Homo sapiens: one gene and its partners. The protein of the gene in region 2 interacts with the protein of the main gene of each other region in a pairwise test. Each region holds a gene or a part of one and is shown on either strand. Other genes may lie near its edges.

The links. The genes of interacting proteins can lie anywhere in the genome.
Region 1: the proteins of ZBED1 (region 2) and CCDC13 interact in binary tests that used the Homo sapiens proteins (3 or more experiments, as listed by UniProt).
Region 3: the proteins of ZBED1 (region 2) and PAX6 interact in binary tests that used the Homo sapiens proteins (3 or more experiments, as listed by UniProt).

Annotation. Positions count from the first base shown.
Region 1 is NC_000003.12:42,770,254-42,777,861, forward strand, and holds the start of CCDC13 (coiled-coil domain-containing protein 13), read right to left. Parts: upstream 3,001-7,608; 5' UTR 2,923-3,000; intron 825-2,922; exon of another isoform or gene 359-824; intron 1-358. UniProt on the Homo sapiens protein: Required for primary cilia formation and promotes the localization of the ciliopathy protein BBS4 to both centriolar satellites and cilia.
Region 2 is NC_000023.11:2,485,918-2,491,095, reverse strand, and holds the end of ZBED1 (E3 SUMO-protein ligase ZBED1), read left to right. Parts: intron 1-323; 5' UTR 324-376; coding exon 377-2,461; 3' UTR 2,462-4,661; downstream 4,662-5,178.
Region 3 is NC_000011.10:31,788,526-31,794,322, forward strand, and holds the end of PAX6 (paired box protein Pax-6), read right to left. Parts: intron 5,590-5,797; coding exon 5,507-5,589; intron 5,278-5,506; coding exon 5,127-5,277; intron 5,029-5,126; coding exon 4,913-5,028; coding exon of another isoform or gene 4,739-4,912; exon of another isoform or gene 4,680-4,738; intron 2,336-4,679; coding exon 2,185-2,335; intron 1,800-2,184; exon of another isoform or gene 1,495-1,799; coding exon 1,409-1,494; coding exon of another isoform or gene 1,105-1,408; 3' UTR 501-1,104; downstream 1-500. UniProt on the Homo sapiens protein: Transcription factor with important functions in the development of the eye, nose, central nervous system and pancreas. Required for the differentiation of pancreatic islet alpha cells.

The DNA of each region.
Region 1 (7,608 bases), on a different chromosome or scaffold from region 2:
TTTGTGAATGCACCAATCGGCACTCTGTATCTAGCTAATCTGGTGGGGACTTTGAGAATCTTTATGTCTAGCTAAGGGATTGTGAATACACCAATCGGCACTCTGTATCTAGCTCAAGGTTTGTAAATGCACCAATTGACATTCTGTATCTAGTTGATCTAGTGGGGAAGTGGAAAACTTTTGTGTCTAGCTCAGCAATTGTAAATGCACCAATCAGCACCCTGTCAAAACGGACCAATCAGCTCTCTGTAAAACAGACCAATGGGCTCTCTGTAAAATGGACCAATCAGCAGGATGTGGGTGGGGCCAGATAAGAGAATAAAAGCAGGCTGCCCCAGGCAGCAGTGGCAACCTGCTGAGGTCCCCTTCCACACTGTTGAAGCTTTGTTCTTTTGCTCTTTGCACTAAATCTTGCTACTGCTCACTCTTTGGGTCCACACTGCTTTTATGAGCTGTAACACTCACCGTGAAGGTCTGCAGCTTCACTCCTGAAGCCAGCAAGACCACGAACCCACCAGGAGGAATGAACAACTCCAGACGCACCACCCTAAGAGCTGTAACACTCACCGCGAAGGTCTGCAGCTTCACTCCTGAGCCAGCGAGACCATGAACCCACCAAAAGGAAGAAACTCTGAACACATCTTGACATCAGAAGGAAGAAACAAACTCCAGACACGCCACCTTTAAGAACTGTAATAACACTCACCGCGAGGGTCTGCGGCTTTGTTCTTGAAGTCAGTGAGACCAAGAACCCACAATTCTGGACTCAATAACTTTATTCATAATTACCAAAAATGAGAAAAAAACAAGATGTACTTCAATAGGTGAGTAGATAACCTGGTACACTCATACCGGTGAATATTATTCAGTGATGAAAAGAAATGAGCTATCACGCCACGAAAAGACATGAAAGAAACCTAAATGTGTATTGTTAAGTGAAGAAGCCGGTCTGAAAAGGCTACATGCTGTATAATTGCAAACTGTATAATATTCTGAAAAAGGCAAAATTACAGAGAAGTAAAAGATACCAGTGATTGTAAATCCCTTCTAAATGAAAAATATCAGTGGTTTCCAGGGGTTGGTGGGAAGGAACAATGAACAGTAAAGCCTAGGGGGTTTTTGGGGAGGTGAAACTGTTCTGTATACTTTACTGGTGGATACACAGCATTACACATTTAGCAAAACTTGTAGACCTGTGCAACCTTAAGCAATGAACACTGGCCAGGTGTGATGACTCACACCTGTAATCTCAACACTCTACGAAGCCAAGGTGGGAGGACCACTTGAGGCCAGGAGTTTGAGACCAGCTTGGGCAACATAGCAAGACCATAGCTTTACAAAAAATAAAAAAATTAGCTGGGCATGGTGGCATGTGCCTGTGTTCCCAGTTACTCAGGAGGCTGAGGTGGGAGGATTGCTTGAGCCCAGGGGTTGGAGGCTACTGTGAGCCATGATCATGCCACCGCACTCCAGCCTGGGTGACAAAGTGAGACCCTGTCTCAATACAGCAGCAGCAACAACAACAACAGATGAACTCTAATGTAAACTATGGACTTTAGTTAGTAATAACATACCAGTATAGTTGTATCAATGATAACAAATGTACCACACCAATGCAATGTGTAAGATGTTAACAACAGAGGAAATGGGAATACGGAATACATAAAGGAACTGTTTTTTGTTTAATGCTTCTAAAAATCTGCTTTAAGTCTATTTTCTTTTAAAAGTAAAGGCTAAGCCGGGCGTGGTGGCTCATGCGTGTAATCCCAAAACTTTGGGAGGCTGAGGTGGGTGGATCACCTGAGGTCAGGAGTTTGAGACCAGCCTGGCCAACATGGTGAAACCCCATCTCTACTAAAAATACCAAAATTAGCCAGGCATGGTGGCGGGCGCCTGTAATCCCAGCTACTCGAGCCCAAGGCAGGAGAATCGCTTGAACCTGGGAGGCAGAGGTTGCAATGAGCCAAGATCGCGCTACTGCACTCCAGCCTGGGCGATAGAGCGAGACTCCGTCAAAAAAAAAAAAAAAAAAAAAAAGTAATAATAAAAAAAATAAAGTAAAGGCTAGAGCTGCATGGAAAGAACTCTTGGCTCAGGTAGGACTTAGAGCCAGGGAGTAGGAAGAGTGGCATGCACTCTGGAGTCCTATGAGGAAGCAAGATCCCACAGGATATGGGACCATAGGTGACAGGGACCAGTGAGGAAGGATTGAGACCCCTTGCCCCATCGGCCTGCCACTTTTTTCATTGTTTTTCTCTTCCCCTCTCCTTCTCTTTCTTCTTTTCTTTTACTGTGTTCTTTTCGAGTATTCTCAACAACAGTCTAGGGGCCTGGAGGTGTGGGGAGGCCGCCCACGGATGCCTAGTTTGGCGCTCTGTGCACTGCTAGCATCTTCGTAGGGATGGGTTTGGGATGGGAGCGGGGTGATGCTCTGGTTCTCAGGGCTGGACTCCGGGCTTGGAGGGGAACTCCCTCTTGCGAGTCCCCAGTCCTGTGGGGGCTGGGCCTGGAAGGGGAACTGGGAGATGCGGAAGTGCACGCCGTCGGGTCGCATCTTTCAGTGCGGTGCGAGAGGGCCCAGTGGCAGAGGCCCAGCAAACAGCGCTTGTCAGGCGGACCTGAGTTCGAGTTCTGACTGTGCCATCTACGCTATGACTTTGGGGCAGGCGACCCACCCTCTGCGCCTCATTAACCCATGTACTGCATGGAAAATAAGCGTCTGCCTGGGTTAGAAGAGGGCTGTGTGTGAAGATTCAAAGGACGAAGGGGAAGAGTCCTCGCTGGGCGCCCAGCACGCGGTGAGCGCCCGGCCAGTGGCAGCGCGCTCGGGCTGGGGTTGCGCTCGGGCTCGGTTCCGCGCCCCCGGCAGCTGCGGGCTTTCCCAGCTCCGGCCCGGGCCCTTCCGCTCTCCCCGGCACTTACAGCGGTCTCTCTCCACTTCTCCCTTCTAGGACCGCGGCGGCTAGGTCACCTCCTCCGGACGCCGACACGCGCTGCCCTGGCAACCGTCACCAGGGAAACAAGCGACGTCACTTGCGCGTTTTCAACGCTACTCTACGGGGGCCGAGGGGGCGCCAAGAGTTCTGAAAGTGACAGAGGCGCTGATGGCGCGCTGGGCTGGATCCAAGCGAGCACGATCTCGAGTGCGCTGGAGATTTTAAATCTTCTGGAGTATATTTTTAAAAAAGTTTTGTGGACCAAACGTTCTGCACAGAGATGCCCATTCCGCTCTCCTGTTGGGGAGTTAAAAAGCGAACGATCTCACCATGAAATTTAAAGTAGCCATTCAGATATATTTGAAAAATGTAAAACAGTGTGGGGAAAGGCCATGTTATGATGGTGAGTGAAGGAAGCAGGACGCAATATAGCAATGCTAAATAAATAAAGTTGTGTTTATTTCAAACTAGGCACTAAAACAAGACCGAAATAGAAATATTAAAAGTGGTTATATTTGGGTGGTGGAATAGCAGTGCTGTGTTTTTATTTTTACACTTTAGAGAATTTTTAAAATAATGAACATCGTTTATTTTCATAAAGGAAAATACTTGTTTTTTTTTTTTTAAATGGCACCTTCCAATGTAAGACACTACTATATTTCAGGGCAATATGGGGGTGGGAGGCAAATTTCTAGGAAAGATGATTCAAGGGAGATTTCTTTCTATCTATCTATCTATCTAATCTATCTATCTATCTATGATAGAGTCTCGCTGTGTCGCCCAGGCTGGAGTGCAGTGGTGCGATCTCAGCTCATTGCAACCTCCATTTCCCAGGTTCAAGCGATTCTCCTGCCTCAGCCTCCTGAGTAGCTGGGATTACAGGCACCCGCCACCACACCTGGCTAATTTTTTTATTTTTAGTGGAGACGGGGTTTCACCATGTTGACCAGGCTGGTCTTGAACTCCTGACCTCAGGTGATCCGCCCACCTTGGCCTCCTAAAGTGCCGGGATTACAGGCGTGAGCCACAGCTCCTGCCCAAATATTTATCCAGGACTTCATAATTTGAAAACCTTGGCAGTTGTTTTTCTATTTTTTTTCCTCATAAGGTGAATGAATACCCATCCCATAGACATGCATACATAAGATACGGCACTAGACTGCCATCAGCACTGCAGGTATAAACCCGAAGTTTCCTGATAAAGGAAAAATGGATCTTTCCCGTTGGTCTCCAATTGCTGCCTGGTGAGCTGAGGGTGGGAGACGTATAATATACAGGTGGCAGCAAAGAGAGACAGGATAAAGAGTAGGATTCAGGTAGATGTGAGCCTCAAAGGATTAGGGTTTTTTTTAAATGGTGTGTGTAGTGGGGAGTATCATTCGTTTGCCTCATGACCACGATGGGACTATGTGGCATAGGAAAAGGAATAGCCAGGTCTACTTAGAGGGCTTCTGGAAAGCATGGATCCTAGCAGAAAGCCAGGTTTTCATTAAAATAAGAACATGCTGTGAGAAAATTAAGGATGCAAGAGAATTTCAGAACCGACATTCTAGAATGTATGTATTAGAAAGTTTGGGAAAGGGGTAACATTTGCTCCAGCAATCCAAGGATTATTTTTGACGAGGATATCATTTTTGCAGTAACCCATTTTTTAAAAAGCAGGGATGATTTTCCTCTAGGTTTGTTACTTTTCCACGGTCACCACTAAGGCTCTCATGCCATTTTTTTTTTCTGCCCAAAATTCTTTTGAGAATTTTCTTTAGTTTATAAGCTTGACATTTTATCATCCAAGAAGCTGGCGAATCCAATCTGGGTCACCAGTATTTCCTCATGTACAGTATACAGATGTTTGTTAATTCCAGCCCACTTTGTTTCTCTAGCCAGAAGTATCTGTAGGACACTGCCCTTTGTTTTTTGCTTTTTAATTTGAAATTATATTGAGATTTTTATAGAATCACATGCAGTTGTAAAAAATAATAGAGATCCCCTGTATACTTTTCCAGTTCTCCACAATGATATTTTGCAGAACTTTAGTATAATATTACAACCAGGATATTGACATCGATACAACCTACTCCTCTTAGATTTCTCCAATTTAACTGTACTTTTCTTTTGATTTATCACGTGTCAGTTTGTGTATCCATGACCATCAAGATATCAAATACTAGCCGGGCATGGTGACTCATGCACGCCTATAATCCCAGCATTTTGGGATGCTGAGGCAGGCAGATCACTTGAGGCCAGGAGTTCAAGACCAGCCTGGTCAACATGGCAAAATCCTATATCTACTAAAAATAACAAAAATTAGCCAGGCATAGTGGTGCTTGCCTGTAATCCCAGCTACTTGGGAGGCTGAGGCATGAGAATCGCTTGAACTCAGGAAGTGGAGGTTGCAGTGAGCTGAGATCGCGCCATTACACTCCAGCCTGGGCGACAAGAGTGAGACTCTGTCTCAAAAAAAAAAAAAGATACCAAATACTATCACAAGGATCTCTCTGTTGTGATTTTATGACTATGTACACTTCCCTCCCTCCTCCTGCCCTAGTCCCTAACCCTTTACAACCACCAGTCTGCCCTCCATTTCTAAAATTTTGTCATTTCAAAAATGTTATATAAATGAAATAACTCAGCATGTACACTTTTTAGGATGGATTTTTTTTTTTTTTTACTCAGAACAATTCCTTGGAGATTCATCCAAGTTGTTGTGTGTATCAATAATCCATTCCTTTTTATTGCTGAGTAGTTCTAGTATGAATGTACCAGTTTGTTTAACCATTTACCCACTGAAAGACATCTGGGTTGTTTCCAGTTAGGAGCAATTATGATTCAGCTGCTATAAACATTCATGTATAGGTTTTTGTGTGAACATAAGTTTTCATTCCTATGGAATAAATGCCCAAGAGTGCAATTGCTGTGTAGTATGGTAACTGCATATCTAGTTTTAGAAGAAATTGCCAAACCTGTTTTCCAGAGTGACTGTTCCACTTTACATTCTTACCAGAAATGTTTAAGTGACACAGTTTCTTCACATCCTTGCCAGCATTTGATGTCACTATTTTTATTTTAGTCATTTTAATAGGTGTGTAGTGATATCATTGTGGTTCTAATGTACGTGACGGATAATGATATTGAACATCTTTTTCATGTGCTTATTTGTCATCTGTATATTTTCTTTGGTGAAGTGTCTGTTCATGTCTTTTGCCCAATTTCTAACTGTCGAGTTTTGAGAATTCTTTATATATTCTATATACTAGTCCGTTGTTGGATACGTAGTTTGCAAATACTTTCTCCGAATCTGTAGTTCATCTTTTAATCCTCTTCACTTGGGCTTTCACAGAACAAAAGGCTTTGATTTTGACAAGGTCCAATTTATCAATTCCTTCTTTAATGGATTGTGCTTTTGATTTCAAGTCTAAGAAAGAACTCTTTGCCTAGCCCTGGGTCCCAAAGATTTCCCCCCATTTTTATAAAAGTGTTAGAGTTTTATGCCCATGATTTATTTTGATGTAATTTTTATATAAAGGTATGAAATTTAGATCAAGGTTCTTTTTTGCTTTTTTGCCTATGGTGTCCAGTTGTTCCAGCACCATTTGTTGGAAAGCTATGCTTCCTCCATTGAATTGCTTTTGCACCTTTGTCAAAAATCAGGTTAGCTATCTCAACAACAAAACCCAATTCAAAAATGGGCAAAGGACTTCAATAGACATTAATCCAAAGAAGATATACAAATGGCAAATAAGCACATGAAAACATGCCCAACATCACTAACCATTAGAGAAATGCAAACCAAAACCACGAGATACCATTTCACACCCATTAGGATGGATATTATCCAAAAAATGGAAAATAACAAGTGTTTGCCAGGATGTGAAGAATTTGGAACCCTTATGTAGAGCTAGTGGGAATGTAAAATGGTATATCCACTGTAGAAAACAGTTTGGTGGTTCCTCAAAAAGTTAAACATTGAATTACCGTATGATTTACAATTCCACTTCTAAATATATGCCCGAAAGATTTGAAAGAAGGGACTTGGCCAGACACAGTGTCTCATGCCTGTAATCCCAGCCCTTTGGGAGGCTGAGGTAGAGGACTGCTTGAGGCCAGGAACTCGAGACCAGCCTGGTCACCATAGCGAGACCTTGTCTCTACAAAAAAAGTAATAATAAAAAATAAAGAAGGGACTCAAACAGGTAATTGTATGCCAGTGTTCATAGCAGCATTATTCACGATAGCCAGAAGGTAGAAACAACCCAAGCAACCTTCAACAGATGAATGAGTAAACAAAAGGTGGTATATATACTCCACAGAATATTCAGCCTTAGAAAAGAATGAAATTCTGAATTCTGGATGAACCTTGAAAACATTATGCTAAGTGAAATAAGCCAGACACAAAATGGCAAATATTGTACGATTCCATGTATATTAGGTACCTAGAATGAACAAATTCATAGAGACAGAAAGTAGAATAGAGGATGCTAGGGAGTGGAAGAACGGGGCAAGTAGAGAGGTTTGGGGGTTTTTGTTTGTTTTTGAGACAGGGTCTCGCTCTATCGCCCAGGCTGGAATGCAGTCGTGCAATGACAGCTCACTACAGCCTCAACCACCTGGGCTCAGGTTATCTTCCCACCTTAGCATCCCAAGTAGTTGGGACCACAGGCTCGCACCACCACAC
Region 2 (5,178 bases):
TCTGTCTCAAAAAAAAAAAAAAAAAAAAACTAAAGGCACTTGTCAGGTACAGCCCTGCAAAAATGCCGTGCTCACTCGCAAACCTGTATGTTGACACGTGCGGCATCGCTGCAGTCGGATTAACGTGGAAGAAAGAGCGTATTCCTGCGCTAGGTTCCCTCCTCCACTCTGCAAAAGTGACCCGCAAGGAAGGTCCAGCCGTCCGGCCCCAGTGCCCTTTGGTTGAAAGCGGAGCTGCCCCGGCACCCTGTCTGTCTCCCCGGCAGGGCTCCCGTGCGTGCCTGGGTCCCTTCTCATGCTGTGTTTGTCTTGGCCCTTCTCAGCAGGTCCCCACGCATGAGCAGCCGTCCAGCAGGCAGGCTCCGGTGGAGAAGCAATGGAGAATAAAAGCCTGGAGAGCTCCCAGACAGACCTGAAGCTGGTGGCCCACCCCCGCGCCAAGAGCAAGGTGTGGAAGTATTTCGGCTTCGACACCAACGCCGAGGGATGCATCCTGCAGTGGAAGAAAATCTACTGCCGCATCTGCATGGCCCAGATCGCCTACTCCGGAAACACCTCCAACCTGTCCTACCACCTGGAGAAGAACCACCCCGAGGAATTCTGCGAGTTCGTCAAGAGCAACACGGAGCAGATGCGTGAAGCCTTCGCCACCGCCTTCTCCAAGCTGAAGCCCGAGTCGTCCCAGCAGCCCGGGCAGGACGCGCTGGCCGTCAAGGCCGGCCACGGCTACGACAGCAAGAAGCAGCAGGAGCTGACGGCCGCCGTGCTGGGCCTCATCTGCGAGGGGCTGTACCCAGCCTCCATCGTGGACGAGCCCACCTTCAAGGTGCTGCTGAAGACGGCCGACCCCCGGTATGAGCTGCCCAGCCGGAAGTACATCTCTACCAAGGCCATCCCTGAGAAGTACGGGGCCGTCCGGGAGGTGATCCTGAAGGAGCTGGCCGAGGCCACCTGGTGTGGCATCTCCACCGACATGTGGAGGAGTGAGAATCAGAACCGCGCCTACGTCACGCTGGCCGCCCACTTCCTGGGCCTGGGCGCCCCCAACTGCCTGTCCATGGGCTCCCGCTGCCTGAAGACCTTCGAGGTGCCCGAAGAGAACACGGCGGAGACCATCACGCGAGTGCTCTATGAGGTCTTCATCGAGTGGGGCATCAGCGCCAAGGTCTTCGGGGCCACCACCAACTATGGCAAGGACATCGTGAAGGCGTGCTCCCTGCTGGACGTCGCAGTGCACATGCCCTGCCTGGGCCACACCTTCAATGCCGGCATCCAGCAGGCCTTCCAGCTCCCGAAGCTGGGGGCGCTGCTGTCGCGCTGCCGCAAACTGGTGGAGTACTTCCAGCAGTCTGCCGTGGCCATGTACATGCTCTATGAGAAGCAGAAGCAGCAGAACGTGGCCCACTGCATGCTGGTGAGCAACCGCGTCTCCTGGTGGGGGAGCACGCTGGCCATGCTGCAGCGCCTCAAGGAGCAGCAGTTCGTCATCGCCGGGGTCTTGGTGGAGGACAGCAACAACCACCACCTCATGCTGGAGGCCAGCGAGTGGGCCACCATCGAGGGGCTGGTGGAGCTCCTGCAGCCCTTCAAGCAGGTGGCCGAGATGCTGTCGGCCTCCAGGTACCCCACCATCAGCATGGTGAAGCCGCTGCTGCACATGCTCCTGAACACCACGCTCAACATCAAGGAGACCGACTCCAAGGAGCTCAGCATGGCCAAGGAGGTCATCGCCAAGGAGCTTTCCAAGACCTACCAGGAGACGCCCGAGATCGACATGTTTCTCAACGTGGCCACCTTCCTGGACCCCCGCTACAAGAGGCTGCCCTTCCTCTCCGCCTTCGAGCGGCAGCAGGTGGAGAATCGCGTGGTGGAAGAGGCCAAGGGCCTGCTGGACAAGGTCAAAGACGGCGGCTACCGGCCGGCTGAGGACAAGATCTTCCCGGTGCCCGAGGAGCCTCCCGTCAAGAAGCTCATGCGGACATCCACGCCGCCGCCCGCCAGCGTCATCAACAACATGCTGGCCGAGATCTTCTGCCAGACAGGCGGCGTGGAGGACCAGGAAGAGTGGCATGCCCAGGTGGTGGAGGAGCTGAGCAACTTCAAGTCCCAGAAGGTGCTTGGCCTCAACGAAGACCCCCTCAAGTGGTGGTCAGACCGCCTGGCCCTCTTCCCCCTGCTGCCCAAGGTGCTGCAGAAGTACTGGTGCGTGACGGCCACGCGCGTCGCCCCTGAGCGTCTCTTCGGATCCGCCGCCAACGTGGTCAGCGCCAAGAGGAACCGGCTGGCTCCCGCGCACGTGGACGAGCAGGTGTTTCTGTATGAGAACGCCCGGAGTGGGGCAGAGGCGGAACCCGAGGACCAGGACGAGGGGGAGTGGGGCCTGGACCAGGAGCAGGTGTTCTCCTTGGGGGATGGCGTCAGCGGCGGTTTCTTTGGCATTAGGGACAGCAGCTTCCTGTAGCGAGGAAGCGTGTTGTCTTACAAGTCATCCCCGCAGCAGCCCATTGGATGCTTTGCTGTAAATACTTACCCGGTCAGCTTGGTTTTGAACCTCAGAGACCATCCACTGTCTTTGACACCTAGAAGGTGGAAAAAGGAAAGAGATTTGAGAAGTGAGAGAGGGTCGGGGGCGGTGGCTCCTGTCTATAATCGCAGCACTTTGGGAGGCCGAGGTGGGCAGATCAGCTGAGGTCAGGAGATCGAGACCAGCCTGGCCAACATGGCGAAACCCCGTCTCTACTAAAAATACAAAAATTAGCCAGGACTGATGGCATGTGCCTGTAATCCCAGCTTCTGGAGGCTGAGGCCAGAGAATCGCTTGAACCTGGGAGGTGGAGGTTGCAGTAAGCTGAGATCGCTGCACTCCAGCCTGGGCGACAAGAGCGAGACTCTCTCAAAAAGAAAAAAGAAGACACAAGAGAGGTGGCTTTGAGTGGGTTTCCTTTCCTCCCCTATTCCCGGGGCCCGGACGACTTCTGCTTGGGAACTGCCAACGCTTCTGCTTGGGAATTGCGTGCAGCAGAGCCTAGAGGAGCTGTTCCTTCCTTCACAGATACTTAAGACCTCCACCATGTCTGATTCGAGTTCTCCCTGGGAGGGTTTAGAAGAAACGCAGGAACATTCTGGGTGGCGTCGAAGGAGCCTTTCCCGATCATCATGTGTGACTTCTGCGAGGTCCAGATCACTGAATTCATGTTTACATTCTCGTGCAAGCAGGGACCTCTTGCTTCTGAGAAATGGGGAAGAGACCTTTTAGCCAAAATGCCCTTCTTAAAAAGAGAGACCTTTTTTTTTAATGTTCGGTTAAAAATGTGACAGATGAGTACAAAAATGCAGACACTTAACAAAAAGCAAACAGAAAAAAAAGTGTGGAATGTGTTGTATTTTCGACAGGTTGCTGCCAGAGAGCCTGCTTCCTGCTGCCTGCCGAAATTTCACTTTGCGGAGTTGGTCCTTAAAACTGGGCGGTGGCCGGGCGTGGTGGCTCACGCTGAGGTCAGGAGTTCGAGACCAGCCTGGCCAACCAACATGGTGAAACCTCGTGTCTACTAAAAATACAAGAAACTAGCCAGATGCGGTGGCACCCGCCTGTAATCCCAGCTACTCGGGAGGCTGAGGCGGAAGATTCGCTTGAGCCCAGGAGGTGGAGGTTGCAGTGAGCCAAGACTACGCCACTGCACTCCAGCCTGGAGGCCAGAGTGAGACTCCGTCTCAAAACAAAACAAAAGTGGGTGGCTCACGGGTCCGGAGGTTATGTCTTCGGTGTCTCAGCCCTAAAAGTCCAGTTCCCCCGTGCGGCCAGCTTTTCCACATAAGGTGTTTTTGATTTGATTACCGGAAAGGACTCTTGATTCTTCTCTTTTAAACTGAATACCATAGGGGAAATGAATTTTAAAATATTGCCCCCGGAGGGGTTTTCCGTGGCTGGATTCCTGCGAGTTGCTTTCAGTCATTCAGGGAAACAGAAAGACGTTTTCCAACATGTAGAACTGCTTTTTAACTGGAGGAAAAATACTTCAGGAGGCTTAGCATATTGCTTGGATTCTACGTGCAGCGGGTTCTCTGCCTCCGTGAAGACAAGCTGGGCTGGGGAGAACGGTGTCTAGGAGGGATGACCCCACTCAGCTCCAGGCAGTGTTCTGCCGAGACCCCAAGAACTCGGGGTGTCAGAGGGCAAAGGAACTACCTGCCTTTCACGGCTGCTGACTTCTCAGGGCTGCAAGCAGCACAGAATGTTATCCTTACGTCCTGAGCCGGTTTAAGTCTGTGGAAAAGGAAGCACGGGAGAAATCCACGTAACCTTTGCTTTCTTTTTAAGGGAAGCGGTTCCGCCGTGAACTTGGAACCCTCAGCTCCGGGTGTTCTCGGCAGAAGGGCAGCTGGAAGGGACACAGTGGGGCAGGCTTTGGGGTTGCTCCCTGTTCTGCCCCGAGGCCGGGGACGCAGGGCAGCCCACGCCTCCGTGGGCTCCATTCTGTAGCATTGCCAGCGTTCTCTTCACGTCTCTAACAATCCTTCGCTTTTCCTCACTCACGTGGAAATGTGAACTGTCCCGGCTCTGTCTTCATTTTTATTTTTAAGCCATCGTTCCCCTCCTGAACGGTTGCCCCTTATTTAATGCTGTAAAGTTGGACTGTTGTTCAATAAACCAGAGCAATGCATTAGCTCCTCATTCATTTGTCTGCCGCGTGTCCGTCTGGACTGCAGTTTGTCTGAACCCCTTGATCCTGGGAGTGGAGGGAGGTTTATCATTATTATTATTTTTATTTTTGTTGTGGTCCTTGTTGAAAGCAACTTTTTCCAGGGCACCCACGGTCAGTTCTGTGCTCCTCTTTCTTGTCTGTAAATCCTCAAGTTATGATGTACTTTCGGGTGTTTTGGCATCAAAATTTCTGAGTGAATAAAGCCGGCAGCTGGTGAAAGTGTTCCCCGGGAGCAGAGATTTTTGCCGGTTCCTTCACTTAGTGGATAGTTGTATAAACGGAGGCCCCATGGACGAGGCAGCCTGGATGGATCCGGATGGCATCAGCGCCTTCCCTCTCCCCCCAGCCTCCTTATCACCCCTCTCTTCCTGTCTTCCTCACCTCCTCTCACATGGTCTCTTCCTTCCCTCCTCCTTCCGTCCAACCCTCCCTCTCTTCTTCAGCCAACAAATCCTTCCTTTCTTCCTTCTTTCCT
Region 3 (5,797 bases), on a different chromosome or scaffold from region 2:
ACTTTTGAATATACTTCAGTGAAATCATTGTTGAAATAGGCTGACAATGGAAATCTGCCCAGATTGAAAATGCCAGTCCTAATTCAAAAAACAATTCCTAGCTAATCGCTTGTTGCATTTTTAAATTATTTCTAGACTTTGAGCTTTAGAATTAAATGGCTAACTGGGAAATGTTACCATTTTGTATATATGTTGTGGGTATAAATGGGCACAGATCTACACCCTGCTGTAAGTGGAATTTTTTTCTAACACGTTTTTGATTTATGGTATCTATAAGGATTATTTTTTAAGGATCATCAGGATGTAAAACAGAGTGTGTGTGAAAGTAACCATTGGTTTAGAATGTTGATCTAACATGGAAATAAAATTTGTAACACCACACTATAAGGTTAAAAAGAAAACTGTATAATAAAGGAAATACAAAGGCTTTGGCATGGTTTTTTACAATCAACAATGGTTAATTTTGATATGTAGTTGTGAACAACTTCAAAACACTTAAGTTTAAAACTCTTGCAAGCACTTTTAATTGATTAGGAATGAACTCTAGATGCACAAAATGATTGGACCGTGAACAGTAATACAACTATATCTAAGAACAATTAACTTTTGCTGGCCAAAAAAGAAACGTATGATTGCATGAAAATGTGTATAAAACATCTATATTCTTGTCAAATATAAATGAAATTAACTTTATTATAGAAATCATTCTGAGGATTTCTAGGGAAGACAAATACTTACATTTTGACATAAAACAAATTGGATTATATCGAAGACACACTCTACCTTTTAGCTATCAACTTTTTTTCTTCCTTGAATTTATATCTTACCCTTTTTTGCACATAAACTTCATCTGTTAACAACCTTTGGAAAACCAACAGATATTTCTGACATAAATCTAGTGCATGTTGTTCCAGGTTTAATTATATGCAAAGGAATGATACAAACTTGGAACATCAGTCCATAAACTATGAACAGATGGGTAGAAGTATTCGATATATCTTGATAAAACTCTTAAATTCGTGGCAAAGCTTGTTGATCATGGTTTTCTTTTTAAAAAAAAAAAAAACAACTTCATGACCAACACAGATCAAACATCCATCCAGTCTACATTGTTCTTTTTTTCATTATAACATACAAATGCCCATTTACAAATAATACACCAAAATGAATAAAAGTTTGGATACCAAAATGAAGATTTGTTCCAACTGATATCGTGCCTTCTGTATACAAAGGTCCTTGTTTCAAGTCCATTCCTTCCCCAGTGGTACAATACAGGACACAATTGTAGAACTGAAGCGGCTCTAACAGCCATTTTTCTTTCTTTCCTGAAAGCTCAACTGTTGTGTCCCCATAGTCACTGACTGAATTAACACAATATTTCCTTTCCTTTTTTTTTTTTTTTTTTTTTTTACTGTAATCTTGGCCAGTATTGAGACATATCAGGTTCACTTCCGGGAACTTGAACTGGAACTGACACACCAGGGGAAATGAGTCCTAGAAGTGGATGAAAGAAATAGCCATGTAGATATTCCCTTTGAGAAACAGACATGGAATACAAATTTATAGGTTTACAAAAAAAAAAAAAAAAAAAAAAACTAATACTTTCTAACATTTTTTACTGTATTAAAATCACTTCAATTGTTACAAATAAAAGTAGCACCTTCAGAAACTAGACAATATATGTATATATACCTATTGGATCCCAAGTACCCCCCACCCCAATCCAAAGGAAAAGAAAAAAAAAATCCTCTGTTTGTTTGCATGTTTGGAACTTTTACAATAAAGCTGTCTCTGGAAAACCAATGTGTCACTTTTTATTTCCAGCAAAAGGTCTAGAGGAGCTATGAGGGCAAGAAGCATTTCAACAAGCACGCACCTACAGCTCAGTGGGCCCCCTACTGAGCTTCGTCTAATAATCTGTCCTCAGAAAACTTGCAGTCTCAGGCCTTGTCTTCATACACAACTTTTGTGACCAAATTCAGGAAAAACAATTTTAGTTTTTGTCTATATGGTGTAAAGTTACTAATTAGCTTAACTGAATTTCCCTTTTCAATCCCCATCCCCCAGGGACAAGGAAAGCAAGGAGTTAAACACGCCCTCCCATAAGACCAGGAGATTCTGTTTGGGTAAACTTCTAGTGAAGAGAGATCGCCTCTGTGCAGCCTGCAGAAAGCAGTGGCTCACCTGTTGAAGTGGTGCCCGAGGTGCCCATTGGCTGACTGTTCATGTGTGTCTGCATATGTGGGGGGGTGTAGGTATCATAACTCCGCCCATTCACCGAAGGGCTGGTGGGCAGCATGCAGGAGTATGAGGAGGTCTGGCTGGGGACTGGGGGCTGTGAGGAGAGAGGCAAACCTGTGGTTACTGAGGAACACATCACACAGCCACAGCCCCAGGCTCCCTCCTCCCGAGGAACTCTGCCAACAAGTCTGATCATTAAAGATGCCTTCACGTGAAGTACTGGAATTCCATATGATAAATCTAAGATTGGGCCTCGAGCTAGTCCTTCCACTGGCCACAGCTAGAAGAAAGCTGCCTATGTATCAAGCCTCTAAAGCACTTTAGGTTCTGACAACTGTCCAGCTAGATGGTTGCCACTATCCATAAATTAATAGGATTTTTGTCTCTAACCTCTGCTAGCATCTTTGAAGAACCTATAGCATGAGGACCTTCATCAAAACACATCCCCTCTCCCTGCAAATCTGGATTTATTTGGGAACCCTATGACCCCCAGAGCCCATATCTCAAGCTTTGGGACAGAGAGCAGTGGGAGGAGCTCTCAGTAAAGTATGGTTCAGGGACCTTGGGAACCTTTCACTGATGGGATTAAAGATTCTTTGAAGAAGCAGATCTGTAATGACCCCAAGTTAAAGTGATCAGAAGTGTTAGTAAATATAACGACCTCCATCCTGAGAATTAACCATGACTTCCTAACAGACCCAAAAGCCCAGACTGACTTATAACTAGAAAACTGTTGCTACCCTCGAACTGTTCGGAATGGCAGCACTGAGGAGGTAAACCTTTCTCCTAACAAAACGCCTCATGAGCTCTCATGGTACTATGCCATGGCAGCAAACTTGGGATGAATTAAAAGAAGTGTGTCGGGAACAAGCAGGTCAGATGATAGTACAGTATACTATCATTTCTCTTCTCTGCAAACTGGAGAAATGTTTAATTTCCAAAATCCATATGCTCAGAGAGGGAAGCATATCAGAGAAGGTCCAGAGGAAGACACCCACCATTTGTAAAATGATGATTTTGGTCAAGAGAATGAATAAATGGATAGACAATCGGGCTCACCCACTCCAAAATTCAAAGAGTAGTTTTCTCTGAAGAGTAAAGTTATTGATCATTTTGATTTTCTTTATGCTTAATGAATGCATGTACTTTTTGAATTATACAAATTATGTAATTTTTAAAAGTCAGTGTTTGAAATAGATTGATTCCCCATACCGCTCTGTATGTGGAAACAGCCCTAATATAATTGCAGCATCTACTTGTTCGTCTTATTATTTTCTCACATACACATTTTGCTATCTTCACAGAAACCTGGATGTTGTTATAATACATGAAACTGAACGAGACACTCTGTGGCCTTATTAAAGTCAGATGATGAATGCTAACATCAAGTTCAAAGAGGCAAACAGGCCTTGAGGGCCTGCCAGAATTTCAGCTTGCATTTGTTTCTAATTCCTGCAATGAGTTCCTCTAGGCAACCTGACTTCTGGAAAATTCCAACGCAGTTATAGCAACACCAACTAATGGGCTGTTAATCCCTTAATTTACATCAATTGCACTATGGCCAACAATATCCAGATGCAATAAAAATAAACATGTGAATAATTCCTCTGAAGTTGCTTATCTAGCTGCTCCTATATTAGTCTGAAGACTGTGAAACATTTATTTTGCTGTTATTTGGATTTGAAATCCAGCAAAAAATGTTCAATGGAGAATAAACAATCAGTGTAGCCCCAGAACTGTTTCCAGCAGAGGCTCATGCTGGCCAATATCGTACCATCTAATATCTCTAATTGTTGCACAAACAGGAGTTCTAGGAAAACCACTGGGAAAGGCCTACCAGAAGACAGACATTTTTCCTATCAAGAATCCATCCAGCAACAAAGGTCTAGTACAAACCATCTGCCTTATCCAACTTACATCATAAAGGGTGAACCTAGTGCAGGACCTCTAAATGTAGGGGCTAATAGATATTTGGGACAGAACTAAGAGGAGAGGCAGGCTGTCATACCAAGTGAATAGCATCAAGCTTCCCAGGCAGCTAGGAGGGCCACAAACTCGTCACACCATTCACAGCAAAGACACACTAAATTTCCAGCAAATACCTGCTATGCCTTTTCTTATTGTAGATACAGACAGAAAACTAGCATTCTCATTATATTATGTATATCTCACCATGTAAATATGAATCCCATTTCTGATCCTTTTTTCTTTCTCACTAGTTTATCACATATACCCAAAGTAATGCCCCAAATGCGTGCACAGATTCTATATTTAGCATACAAACACATTAATATAAACCCAAATTTTAAACTACTAATCTGCTATCTGATAATGTGCCAGCATTATTTCCACTTTCTGGTGCAAGGCTCCCTGGTACCCAAAACATGCCCCACCACCACCCAACATTATCAAGGTAACAGTATAATAAAAGGCAGATCAACCTGACAAAACTGGACAGATTTTTATTACTCATTTTTTTAGGGCATGAATTAATGAGTCAATCACTTAAAAGTGATGGGATTGACTGTCTCCGACTTGACTGGTCAAGCCAATCACTGTAGTGCGAAAAGCTCTCAAGGGTGCAGACACAGCCAATGAGGTCCGCAGGCCCTGAGCCACTCCTCACTTCTCTGGGGCCTGGGTTATGCAGGCCACCACCAGCCGCACTTACTTGCATAGGCAGGTTATTTGCCATGGTGAAGCTGGGCATAGGCGGCAGAGCGCTGTAGGTGTTTGTGAGGGCTGTGTCTGTTCGGCCCAACATGGAGCCAGATGTGAAGGAGGAAACTGAGGGCAAGAGAAATGACAGTAGTCAGAGTGAGAGTCAGAGCCCGGAGCAAACAGGTTTAAAGACATTGATTCGTAGTATTAGTATTTCAAATTACCCGGTGTGGTGGGTTGTGGAATTGGTTGGTAGACACTGGTGCTGAAACTACTGCTGATAGGAATATGACTAGGTGTGTTGCTGGCCTGTCTTCTCTGATTCCTCAGTTTTTCTTCTCTTCTCCATTTGGCCCTTCGATTAGAAAACCATACCTGGAAATCAGGTGGGACAGGTTAGCACTGTGTCTACGTCGAGCCCAGCCCCACCTTGGCACCTCCACTGCTGCCCTCCCCACGCCCATGGCAGCAGAGCATTTAGCAGACTGAACCTTTTTATTATATTAGTCCTATAAATAAATAGTACTCTGTACAAGCACCTCTGTCTCTAGGAAAGACAAATGGTATGAATCACAAAGTGTGAAACTGCACAGTCTCTCGGTACCTGTATTCTTGCTTCAGGTAGATCTATTTTGGCTGCTAGTCTTTCTCGGGCAAACACATCTGGATAATGGGTTCTCTCAAACTCTGAAAGAGTAAGTTGATTTTCCATATTGTGCCAGAACTACACAAAATATGTTGACCAAACTGTGCATCAAACTGGTTCCCACCTCCCCACTCCCATTACCTCCAACCAATTCCCTTTAAAATGCTTCTAGTGTTGACTGTACTTGGAAGAACTTTCCCACCAGAACCAAGTTAAATTTTCTTTGGAATGGCATTCAGTGACCTTTCT